Linked DNA regions of Homo sapiens. The protein of the gene in region 1 interacts with the protein of each later gene in a pairwise test. Each region holds a gene or a part of one and is shown in the gene's direction. Other genes may lie near its edges. The genes, in order: PLEKHF2, BCAS3 and CEP44.

Evidence for each region.
Region 2: the proteins of PLEKHF2 (region 1) and BCAS3 interact in binary tests that used the Homo sapiens proteins (3 or more experiments, as listed by UniProt).
Region 3: the proteins of PLEKHF2 (region 1) and CEP44 interact in binary tests that used the Homo sapiens proteins (3 or more experiments, as listed by UniProt).

Annotation. Positions count from the first base shown.
Region 1 is NC_000008.11:95,150,768-95,154,518, forward strand, and holds part of PLEKHF2 (pleckstrin homology domain-containing family F member 2), read left to right. Parts: intron 1-3,263; 5' UTR 3,264-3,277; coding exon 3,278-3,751. UniProt on the Homo sapiens protein: May play a role in early endosome fusion upstream of RAB5, hence regulating receptor trafficking and fluid-phase transport. Enhances cellular sensitivity to TNF-induced apoptosis.
Region 2 is NC_000017.11:61,387,851-61,391,601, forward strand, and holds part of BCAS3 (BCAS3 microtubule associated cell migration factor), read left to right. Parts: intron 1-767; coding exon of another isoform or gene 768-858; intron 859-3,751. UniProt on the Homo sapiens protein: Plays a role in angiogenesis. Participates in the regulation of cell polarity and directional endothelial cell migration by mediating both the activation and recruitment of CDC42 and the reorganization of the actin cytoskeleton at the cell leading edge.
Region 3 is NC_000004.12:174,286,827-174,290,577, forward strand, and holds part of CEP44 (centrosomal protein of 44 kDa), read left to right. Parts: intron 1-3,751. UniProt on the Homo sapiens protein: Centriole-enriched microtubule-binding protein involved in centriole biogenesis. In collaboration with CEP295 and POC1B, is required for the centriole-to-centrosome conversion by ensuring the formation of bona fide centriole wall.

The DNA of each region.
Region 1 (3,751 bases):
TCCAGAGGTTAGTTAATAGCTTCCTTAGAGTTCTTGTAGATTCAGTGGAGTTCTTAGGAACAATTAGTGTACCATAACATACTGTAACATCACAGAGAAATCAGATTTGAGGCTTGTTCTGCTGTGACAGCCTTGGGCAAGTTATTTAACCCCTCTTTGGCTGTTTACTCATCCATAAAATGGAGCTAATAGTGCATGTATCATAAGGTTGCTGTGAGGAGGAAATACAGTAATAAGTGCAAAGTGCTCAGCACATTGGTTGGACTCCCTATGAGTAGAGTTCATTCCAGGTTAAGTTTTGCTTTTACATTATTAAATATCTTTGTGCCTTAATTTCTTCATCAGCTCACAGTTCAGCTAATATTATTAGATGCTTCTTTGGGGGACAATAAAAACTTCTCTAGTAACTTCATAGGCATTTCAAACAGTTCAAATCAGAAAATAATATGAAAAGCACAGTACAAATTTATGATAGTATTAATTCTCATAGTAGCAATAATAGGAAATCTGTTTGTGTTGTATATGAGTTAATAACGATATGTTCAAATGGGTGGACTCAGTAGTTGATTCAGGTGGAGAGAAATAGATCCTTTCAGTTTTTTTTTTAAAGTGCCAATGTCTTTTCCTGTTTTAGGGCCTTTGCAGTTACTCCTTTTGTCTGGAATATTCTCCCCTATCCTTACCCCTTCTTATGTCTGTCCATCTAGTACAGCTGAAATGACAACATTGTAGAAAGGCCTTTCCTGACCATGTAGTCTGAATAGCTCTCAGTTTCTTTTAAAAATCACTTTAAAAAAAAAATCATAGCATTGATTAGTACTAGATTTCAATTTTGTTTTCTCTTTCCTTCTCTCCAACTAGAATGTAAACCCTGAAGAGCAGGGACCTTGCCTGTATTGTTTAATTTATTATTTTTTAAAATTTTTATCTGTTGTCACATACTCAAGTATGATCGCCTGTGGTGTTTATTTTTACTTTTCCTGCACCTAGATCCTAAGTGCCTGACAAATACTTGTGGAATGCTTGAATATAATGTAAAGTATGAAAAAATGATCCATAATTATACTTTCCAGAGATAAATTACCATTGTTGATAGTATAGTATATATTTTTTAACTTTATGTTGTGTGTGTGCTTACAGATACAGATGTCTATGATTATGCTTTTGAAATATGTATTCCATTGAGTCTAAAGATAAACATTTTTTACTATATGTATTTGAAATTGGTCTTATAATCAACGGTATGCTGTGGTTTAATTGGCAACATTTTTCTCTTTATGAGTTGCACATAAATATGTCTTAAAATCTATAGCACCTTAGATGTGATGAAATGTGGTATTTATTTGAAATAAAAATGAGATCAGGAAGTTCATCTCTTTTCCCCACCTAAAGATCTTGAGCATTTCCCTTGTCACTGGTTTTAGATCTGTCTTATTCTCAAGATATATGATTAAGGGTGTGTCATAACTTTTTCAATCAGTTCCTCTTGATGGCTATTTGGAGCTTTTCCAATTGTTTTCCTGTTATAAACAATGCTGTGCTGATTATCCTTGTATATATCTCTATGCACGTGAGTGAAATTTATTTAATTAGATTGGTGAATACACATATTCTCTGTAGTGTACAAGGGTACCTATTTCCCTATACCTTTATGAGTACTGAATCTTAGTAAATTTAAAAATTTTTATTAATCTAAGTGAAAAATATACTAATGTTTAATATAATTTCTTTAATTATGATAGAGATTGAAACCTCTTTTCCTGTTTATTAGCCGTTTTTATTTCCTTTTCTGTGATGTACTTGTGCATAGGATAGTAGGCTTTTAATTGGCTGGCATATTAGTCCTAATTAGAAACCTTTCCAGTTTGGAACCATGCATTATCCTATTAATTCTTGGGAACAACTTTTAGGCCTGCTACATCCTACTTTTGTGGAGGACAAGAGGGCTTTATAAGGACCCAAGATTTGCAGGGAGACAGAATTCAGAAATAACCAGAATTCTAGTGTCCTTTATAATGAAGGCCAAGAAGGGCTATAGTGTCAGTTTTTGAGCTGAATACTGGAACTTACATACTATGCTGTTAGTCTTTAAACTTTAAATGGTCTTCTTCTCAAGGCTTGTTGTTCTTTAATATGACTTGGTTATAGTATAGTAGTATTAGTTTAGTAGGTTTGAAATAGGATACAACTCTGGGACTTGAGTGAAGTCAATATTGGACTTAGAGATTAAATGTTTAGATTAATAGGGTGTTTTGCACATTGTTAAAATGTTATTAACATTTTTTAGTACCTTTTCTGTGTCAAACCGTATCAGTTTCAAACAAAACTATCAGATGATCTCTGCTTTTTAGGTTCTGCATGGTCTCTGGAGGAACAGATTTCAGTCCTTTGGTAAAAGTGAAGCTAGAATATACATGGAATATGGATAGCTCACAGGAAGGGTTTTAGTCTAGCATGGGAGTTTAAAGGAGGCTTCCTGGAGGAGACACGATTACCTAAACTAAGTCTCGAAGGATGAATATGAGTTAGCTGCAGTAGTAAGTAGTAAAAGGAACAACAGTGAAATGGACTACAAGTAGTAGAGTGTTCTTAGAATATGACATTTGAGGTGAAGACTGACTTATGGTGAGGTTGGAGTGACAAGAACCAAGTAATGAAAGGCCGTGAACACCCTGTATTTAATAGGTTAAGGGATCATTTTGAGCAATGATGGGGTCAAATTAGGGTTTTAGAGATCACTGCCCAAAGATTGATTTGGGGGCAAGATTGAAGGCCAGGACACATGTTGGGAAACAGTTCTAGTAATCCAGGTGAGAGAATTAAGGCTGTAGCTCAGTGGTAATAGCTTACTTGGAAAATTGTAGTCATTTTTCTTAGTTTATGTAACATTTTGTTCCCTATTGTTCAGAATCCCATTGAGATTACATTTCATTGAATGGGGTTTATTATTTTGCAGAGATAAGTTATGTTAATTATCCAATCGTCTTTCATTCAATTATGTCTGTAGGAAGTTTATACTTTTACAAATACCTGCTTAACTAGTATGGTGCTACGTGGAGATGATAAATAAGTGTTTTTCATCATTTTAAAAATTGAGAAATGTTAGCCCTTTTGATGTGCTTAGTGATTATCTTAGAGGGAAAGAATTTTAGAACATTTTGCCTTTGTGTAAAAGCAATGATTTGTTAGCTTAATTTATATATAATTAACTTATAGGAATTTATAATTTATATGTGCTAATTTCTTTTTCTTTTTTTTAAAAGGCTATTAGTGAAAGATGGTGGATCGCTTGGCAAACAGTGAAGCAAATACTAGACGTATAAGTATAGTGGAAAACTGTTTTGGAGCAGCTGGTCAACCTTTAACTATACCTGGACGAGTTCTTATTGGAGAAGGAGTATTGACTAAGTTGTGCAGGAAAAAGCCCAAAGCAAGGCAGTTTTTCTTGTTTAATGATATTCTTGTATATGGCAATATTGTCATCCAGAAGAAAAAATATAACAAACAACATATTATTCCCCTGGAAAATGTCACTATTGATTCCATCAAAGATGAGGGAGACTTAAGGAATGGATGGCTAATCAAGACACCAACTAAATCTTTTGCAGTTTATGCTGCCACTGCTACGGAGAAATCAGAATGGATGAATCATATAAATAAATGTGTTACTGATTTACTCTCCAAAAGTGGGAAGACACCCAGTAATGAACATGCTGCTGTCTGGGTTCCTGACTCTGAGGCAACTGTATGT
Region 2 (3,751 bases), on another chromosome or scaffold:
CTCCCACCACCCAGGGGACCACATCCCTGGAGAGTGCAAGGTCACAATGAGGTGACTGGGTCTAGCCACTTGCCTGGAAGCCACTCCTCCTCTCCTGCCCTACTTTGGGGCCTGGAGAACAAGCTCTTTTAAAGCTTCTCCCACTGACCAGAATCTCCACACCTCTAAGGGGGGAGGTGGCTGGGGACACTTCCCTCATTTCCTGCCACAGAGCCCCCAGCACTCTCTTTCGGGCCCTGGCAGGTTCCTGATGGACTTCCCCAACAGGTCCACCTCAACCGCAGGACAGCTGCTCAGACCTGGAGGTCTTGGGAGTGGGGGAGGAGGGCAGCAGCCAGGAGTTGGGCCACTGAGTCAGAAGGTCCAAGGGCATCCCTGAAAACTGCAGTCTGTTTCCCTGTCCTCCTCCAGCAACCCACCTGCATGGGGTCCCATCTGGCACTGCATGGGCCGTAGGTCCCCAGCCCTCCCACTTCCTAAAACTGTTCTTCATGTTGAACCTGTGACTCCTCTCCCCCTCCCCCACTCTGAACGGGGTCTTGGCCCCCTCTGTCACAGCAGATCCATCTCTGGGACCCCCAAGACAGATTGGTCCCCAGCCCCTACACATGCATGTCACTGTCCTCCTTGACTGCAAACTCCCCCTCCTCACGGTGTGCCCCTGCGCCTCCTGACACCTCTCCACCTGCTTGCAGAGATCAGTGTACTTCTCAATCGTTGTCCATATCTTTTCCAAAAAGATTCCTCAATGCTTTTCTTTTCAAAAGGGAAAAAAAAAGGAAAAAAAAAACAATGCCAACAGCCCAGCGTCCGTGAGCAACCCAACAGTAACAAAGCATGCGTTCGGGATGGAGGAAGGTAAGGCCACACGTTTCCATTTGCCGCTTGCTCGTAGGGCTGGGCGGCCGGGATGACTTGGAGGGGGGAATCTGAGCAGCCCTCCTCCCCTCCACTTCCCACACACACCCCTGCCTGCAGGGGGAGGAGCAGAAGGGGTCTGAGAGGAGGCGTGGAGAAAAGCGCCCACAAAGCTGCCCCGGGGCCAGCAGGCCCCCGATTCTTTCAGTTAGTCTGTGTTGAAGAATGGGCCCCCACCTCCCCTTACCACATCATTCATTCATTCATTCATTCATTCATTCATTCATTCATTCATGCTAGAAATGTTTAGGGCACCCATGATTTTCCAGGCCACTAGGGATACAGAGTTAAGGCACAGAACCCCCCCGAGGGGGTCTCCCCTAGATGAGACACATGGGACGATGAGGGGGCCTGGGCTAGGAGTCAGCACAGCGCAGGGTAGGGTCTGGCAGGCTCTGCTCGGGGGACAGGACGGGCTCACAGAGGAGTGGACACTCGTGCTAAGCTTTGGAAGATGAGTAGGTGTTCTGGGGCTTTGTAGAGCAAGTTACATGAACACAGGCCCAGAGGCCTAGAACCACCTGGATGGGTCCAAACACCACACAGCTTCATCACTTTTGTGTCTCAGACATAATAACGGGTATCACTAGTGAGGGGTTGGCGGCAGGTCATGGAGGGCCATTTCACAGTGCTGGGGAGTTCAGACCTTGCCCTGGGAACTGTTAGGAGTGGCTGAAGGCTTTTACGCAGAGGAAAAGCAAGATGAGGGCTGTGCTGTACATAGCCCACTCTGGCTTTGGCACAGGGTGGGTGACCTGGAGTCAGGAGACTGAGGCGCACAGGGCAGGCTTAGCCAGGGCAGAGGCAGAGGAGGGAGAAGTTCAGCAGAGCCTTGGTTACCTTACCCTGGGATGCGGGGGCGAGGGAGAACGCTGCCCCCATCCTTCTTACCCGGGTCTAACTGGCAAAGGGAAAATGCGAGCAAGGCGCTCAGGTTGTCCCTGGCCCCCAAGAACAGGACATTCATCTTGTAAGCCCCTGGGTGGCTTTCCCTGCACTGTGGTGTGATGGGCTGGGGTGCATCCACGAAGACTCATTGGTGGGACCACCGAGGCTGCTGGGGTATTTGCTGGGGGCCTATGCCAAGGGACGGTGGGGGTGCCATGCCTGGGCCCGGGCTCCCGTTTCCTGGCTTCCTTGGCAGTGTGGATGTGGAGGCATTTTGCATCAAGGCCGTTAAAGCTGCCCCTGAGCTGTAAAAAGGGGCCAGCCTTCCCCATCCTGGTGGCCCTGCCTGCTCCTTCCTCGGGGGCTTTCTTCCTTAGGCCTGGCGGCCCGATCCTAAGGAAGCCCCTGCTTTTCTTGCGCCTGCCGGTGCTCTTCTCCCGCCCGCCTGGCCCTGCTGTCAGCGCCCCCTAGTGCCGGGCCGGCCGCGCATGAGGGCGGTGGGACAGATCGCCCACAACTCCTCGGCTTGCTTTTGGGGAAATAAGGCAACAGAGGGGTCTCTTGGAGTCTGGAGCTTCCATGTAAAATCCCCAGGGTCTACTCTTGGCTTTACCACCCTCTCCATCTCATGGCACGATGGCCTGTCCCCCCAGATTAGGGTGATACTGAAGGAGGAGCAGGAGAAAAAGATCCTATCTGCCTTGTTTTCTATCCATATCCAGATAGCTCTTGACTTTCCCAGGCAGCCAATGTCCCCTGGAGGTCAGGGACCATAGTCAGGCCCTCGGTCCCTGTCCACAGTCCCATCCCCCTACTTTCCCCAATTTGCCAAGAAGCCCTGGTGTCCCAGTGAACTGTCCCACCGAGACCCCGGCGACAGACTCGGCTGATGGATCCCAAGGGCCCCTCCCCTCCCCAGGCCCAGGTGCCCGCCTCCTCCCCACTCCACTCTGTGGCTGCTGCAGGCCTGCAGGGAGTCGGGGTCAGTGGTTCGTTGCTGGCTGGCTGGTGTTGGCCAGCCCAGGAGTGAAGGCCATGACCCCTTCATTCCCTAACCAGAGCCGGCTGTACTGCGCGTGTGGTGGCAGGGGGCCTGGGAGCGGTTGCAGGATGAAGACCAAGGTCTCAAGCCAGACCAGACGAGTGCAACGTTTTTGCACATCTTGCTGTTTCAAGTGACTGCTTTGAGGTCCTGCACTCCTGGGTGGACAGGCCAGACTCCTTCAGTCACAGGCAGGCATCCCTTGGAGAAGGAAAGGTTGCAGGTCTACATATCTTGGCTTGGGGCAGGCTCCAGAGACTGCCCGGTGTGTGTGTGCCCATATGTCAGAGCCCCCGGGGGAGACTGAAAGGGAATCGGAACTGACCACCTTCAAAAAGCCAAGAAGTAATTGGTTCTTCCTTGCACTCAGCAAGCAGGGAATTCCATTCCCAACCCACCTACCCCAGGACCTGACTTGGGTCAAGAGATGGTAGGACAATTGAGCGGCCCACAGCTGAATTAGATGGATCAAGCTGCCATATCTGAGGTGGCAACATGGATGTGCAGGGCCAGGGAGGCAGAGGAGGAGGAGGGCGGGACTCCCTGCCTGCCCTTCAGGTTGATGCTGAGGGGCCTCCAGGAGACTTGGGGCCTAAGAGGAAAGGAGAAAGGAGGCACTTCAGGCAGACAGGGACCCTCTCTTCATTGGAGCAGGCCCCTCTCAAACCAGGCATCCCCTCCCAGGGAAACAGGACACTTGGCAGGAGGTGCCAAAGATGAGCCAAGACCTGGCCAGCAGATGGACTGTGTGGGTGAGCATGAGTGAATGAGTGAGTGGCAAAGCCAGGCAGAAGCTCTAGGCACAGGCAGGGCAGGAGAGAGGTGGGGACAGATCAGGCAGGGATGCTGCAAGCCCTCCCGTGTCCTAGCTTCTCCCCGCCTGCCTCCCCTGTAGAGCCGGGA
Region 3 (3,751 bases), on another chromosome or scaffold:
GTATGTGTTTTTCTGTTGTGTACATTCTTCAGAGTCATATTCCTGTTTCATAGGCCCCATGTATGTCAGCTTTTAGTAGGTATCACCAGTAAGTTTTCCAAAATAATTGTACCATTTACTCTTTCTGTAAAAAGCATAGATATTTTGAATTTCTTGCCTTTTTTTCTGTGTTCACCTTTTCTTCTTGGAAGTAGACAGCTGGCTAACCAGCAGGAGTTTGGGACCGATGACAGTGCAAAACATCTTGACTGACAATGGTGGTGGCTTATTAAAGTGAAGAATCAGCATCAAGAGGGGGAATCGGTGTATTCCTTCTATTTCTAGGCCATTGGGATATAGGTCGTTATGGGACCCCAGGTAGTAACCCAGCTCATTCTGAAATAGAGCTGAGAAATGACAAGGATTAAGTGTTGCTTTTCAGGTAGAGTGCTATTTTGGACCCTTGGCACAGATTTTGGTTCTTTATTATGATAAGTACCAAGAAGGAAAAGAACTGGGTCTATTAGAGAAAATTAATGAGGGGGATTAATTAGTTTGGGATCTAAGACTTATTTGAGGTGGTGACATTTAAGCAGGATGCCGAGGGGTATTAGCCAGATGGAGAATGGGAGAGGGAAGGAGTTGCTCTGTATCTCTTCAAGCTTGAAGAAATGGCATGTGCAAAGGTGTTGAACAGCTTGAGATATCACCAAACATCCTTATCCAGGTCCAGGAACTTTATCCCAGATACCATTTCTGTTATTTGTTGCTTTCTATAATATTTTAAATTAACTAAATCACACACATTCTCTTTTTCATCATTACTTGGTAAGTGGAATGTTTTGATTTTCCCTTCTGGTTATGATTTACATGTATTAACTTATTAATACACGAAGATCAAAAAGTGACCAAAATTGTTCAAAAGGTACAATTTATTATAGGATAATTATAATTATTTCATGCTGACAATATGTTTATAAGTGTTTTGCAGTAACCTTTTTGTTTCTATAATTTCATGGTAAGAAAGAAAATGAATTAGGTAGAGCTAGTAATACCAGGTATAGACAAGAATGTAGTATTTAAAGCTAATATCTGAAATTCTCTTCTTGCATCTGCTAACTGAACGAGAAAATTCTGTGTGTGAGAATGGAAAACTTTGGGTGAAAAGTGAAAACTTGGATTTTGTAGTCCAGGCCCTTAATTAAGTAGATAACACACTCAGAAGGAGAAAATTTGGGGTGCTTTATATACAAAGGGACTATTTTTAGAGGTGTGTGTACAGGGATCTGGTGCTGCTTCATTTTTTAACCTGTTTATTGCGGTATGATTGACATACAGAAAGCTATAGACATTTAATGTATACAGTTTCTGTTTGGAGATAAGTAGATATTGTGAAACCATCCAACCATTATTACTACAAGAAATCAATGCCATCACCTTGAAAAGTTTCCTTCTACTCATCTTTTTTTCACGTTTTGTGATAAGAGCACTTAACATTAGATCTAACTTCTTAGCAAAATTTTAAGAATACAATATTGCTAATCACAGACACTGGGTTGTACCTGCAGATCTTATTTATTTTGCCTAACTGAAACTTTGTACCCTTTGAACAACAGCTTCCCATTTTGTTCTCCCCATGTTCCCTTACAACCACCATTCTATTCTCTGCTTGCATGTATTTGACTATTTTAGATTTCACATACATTGAGATAATACAGTATTTGTCTTTTTGTGTTTAGCTTATTTCACTTAGCATAATGTCCTTCAGGTTCATCCATGTTGTTGCAAATGGCAGGATTTCCTTCTTTTTTAAAGGCAAATTTGTTTATTCTCACATTTTTGTTGGGGTCCCTAAGGTTTTCTACATCTAAGATCATGTCATCTGCAAACAGATATTGTACCTCTTCTCTTTTTATTTGGATGTTTTTAATTTATTTTTCTTACCTAGTTATTCTGGCTAGGACTTAAAATACTACGCTGAATAGGAGAGGCTAAAGTAGGCAACCTTGCCTTGTTCCTCATCTTATGGGGAAAGCTTTCAGTTTTTTATCTTTAAGTATCTTAGCTGTGGGCTTCTCATAAATGGACTTTATTTTGTTTTTCCTTTACCTAATTTGCTATAAGGTTCTTCCATACCTAGTTTATTGGGAGTTTTTATCACAAAAGAGTATCGAATTTTGTCAAGTGCTTTTTCTGCATCTGTGCAGATGCCCATGTGAGTTTTATCCTTCATTCTATTAATGCAGTATATTACATTGGTTGGTTGTCATATGTTGAACCATCCTTGCATCACAATGAAAAATCCTACTTGGTCATGGTATATGATTCTTTTAATGTGCTGTTGTGTTTGGTTTGCTAACATTTCATTGAGGATTTTTACGTCTATATTCATCAAATGTATTAGACTGTAGTTTTCTTGTAGTGTATTTGTCTGGCTTTGGTATCAGGGTGATGCAGGCCTCAGAATGACTTTGGAAGTGTTCCCTCTTCTTTTTTTTTTTTTTTTAGATATGTTTAATAAGGTTTTGTATTAATTTTTCTTTAAATGTTTGCTAGAATGTATCTGGCTCTTGGCTTTTCTTTGTTGGGAATTTTTTGATTATTCCATCAATCTCCTTTTTTGTTATTTGTCTATTCAAGCATTCTATTTCTTCTTGATTCAGTCTTGGTAAGTTATATTTTTCTAGGAATTTACCCATTTTTTTTTAGATTGTCCAATTTGATGGCATATAATTGTTCATAATAGTCCCTTATGATACTTTTTATATCTGTGGGATCAATTGTGTCCTCTTTCATTTCTGATTTTGTTTGAGTCTTCTATTTTTAAAGTCTAGCCAAGGATTTGTTGATTTAGTTTGTCTTTTCAAAAGAGGAACTTTTAGTTTTGTCAATTTTTAAAATTGTTTTTCAATTTTCTATTTCATTTATTTCTAATCTAATCTTTATTATTTTCTTCCTTCTGCTAATTTTGGATTTAGTTTGTTCTTTTTCTAGTTCCTTGAGGTGTAAAGTTAGGTTGTTTTATTGAGACCTTTTTTTTTTTTTCTTTGAGACAGAGTCTTGCTCTGTCACCAGGCTGGAGTGCAGTGGCGTGATGATCTTGGCTTACTGCAACCTCCGCCTCCCGGGTTCAAGTGATTCTCCTGCCTCAGCCTCCCGAGTAGGTGGGAGTCCCAAGTAGGTGGGACTAGAGCCACGCACCACCATGCTCAGCTAATTTTTGTATTTTTTGTAGAGATGGGGTTTCACCATGTTAGCCAGGATGGTCTCAATCTCTTGACCTAGTGACCCGCCTGCCTCAGCCCCCAAAAGTGCTAGGATTATAGGCGTGAGCCACTGTGTCCTGCCTCTTTCTTCTTCTTAATGAATTTATTGCTATAAACACTTCTCTTATTCTGCTTTTACTGCATCCTATATGTTTGGGTATACTGTGTTTTTATTATTGTTTGTCTTGAGATATTTTATAATTTCTGTTTTGATTTATTCTTTGACCCAGTATTATTTAATAGTATGTTATTTAATTCCCCTGTATTTGTGAATTTTTCCATTTTCTTTCTATTATTGATTTCTAGTTTCATTCCCTCGTGATCAGACAAAATGTTTAGAATGTTTTTAGTCTTCTTAAATTTGTTAAGACTTGTTTTGTGACCTAGGCTGTGATCAGTTATAGAGAATGTTTCATGTCCTTTTGAGAAGAATGATTATTTTGCTATGGTTGGGTCTCATGTTCTGTATATGCATGTTAGGTCTTTGGTCTATAGTGTTGTATAGT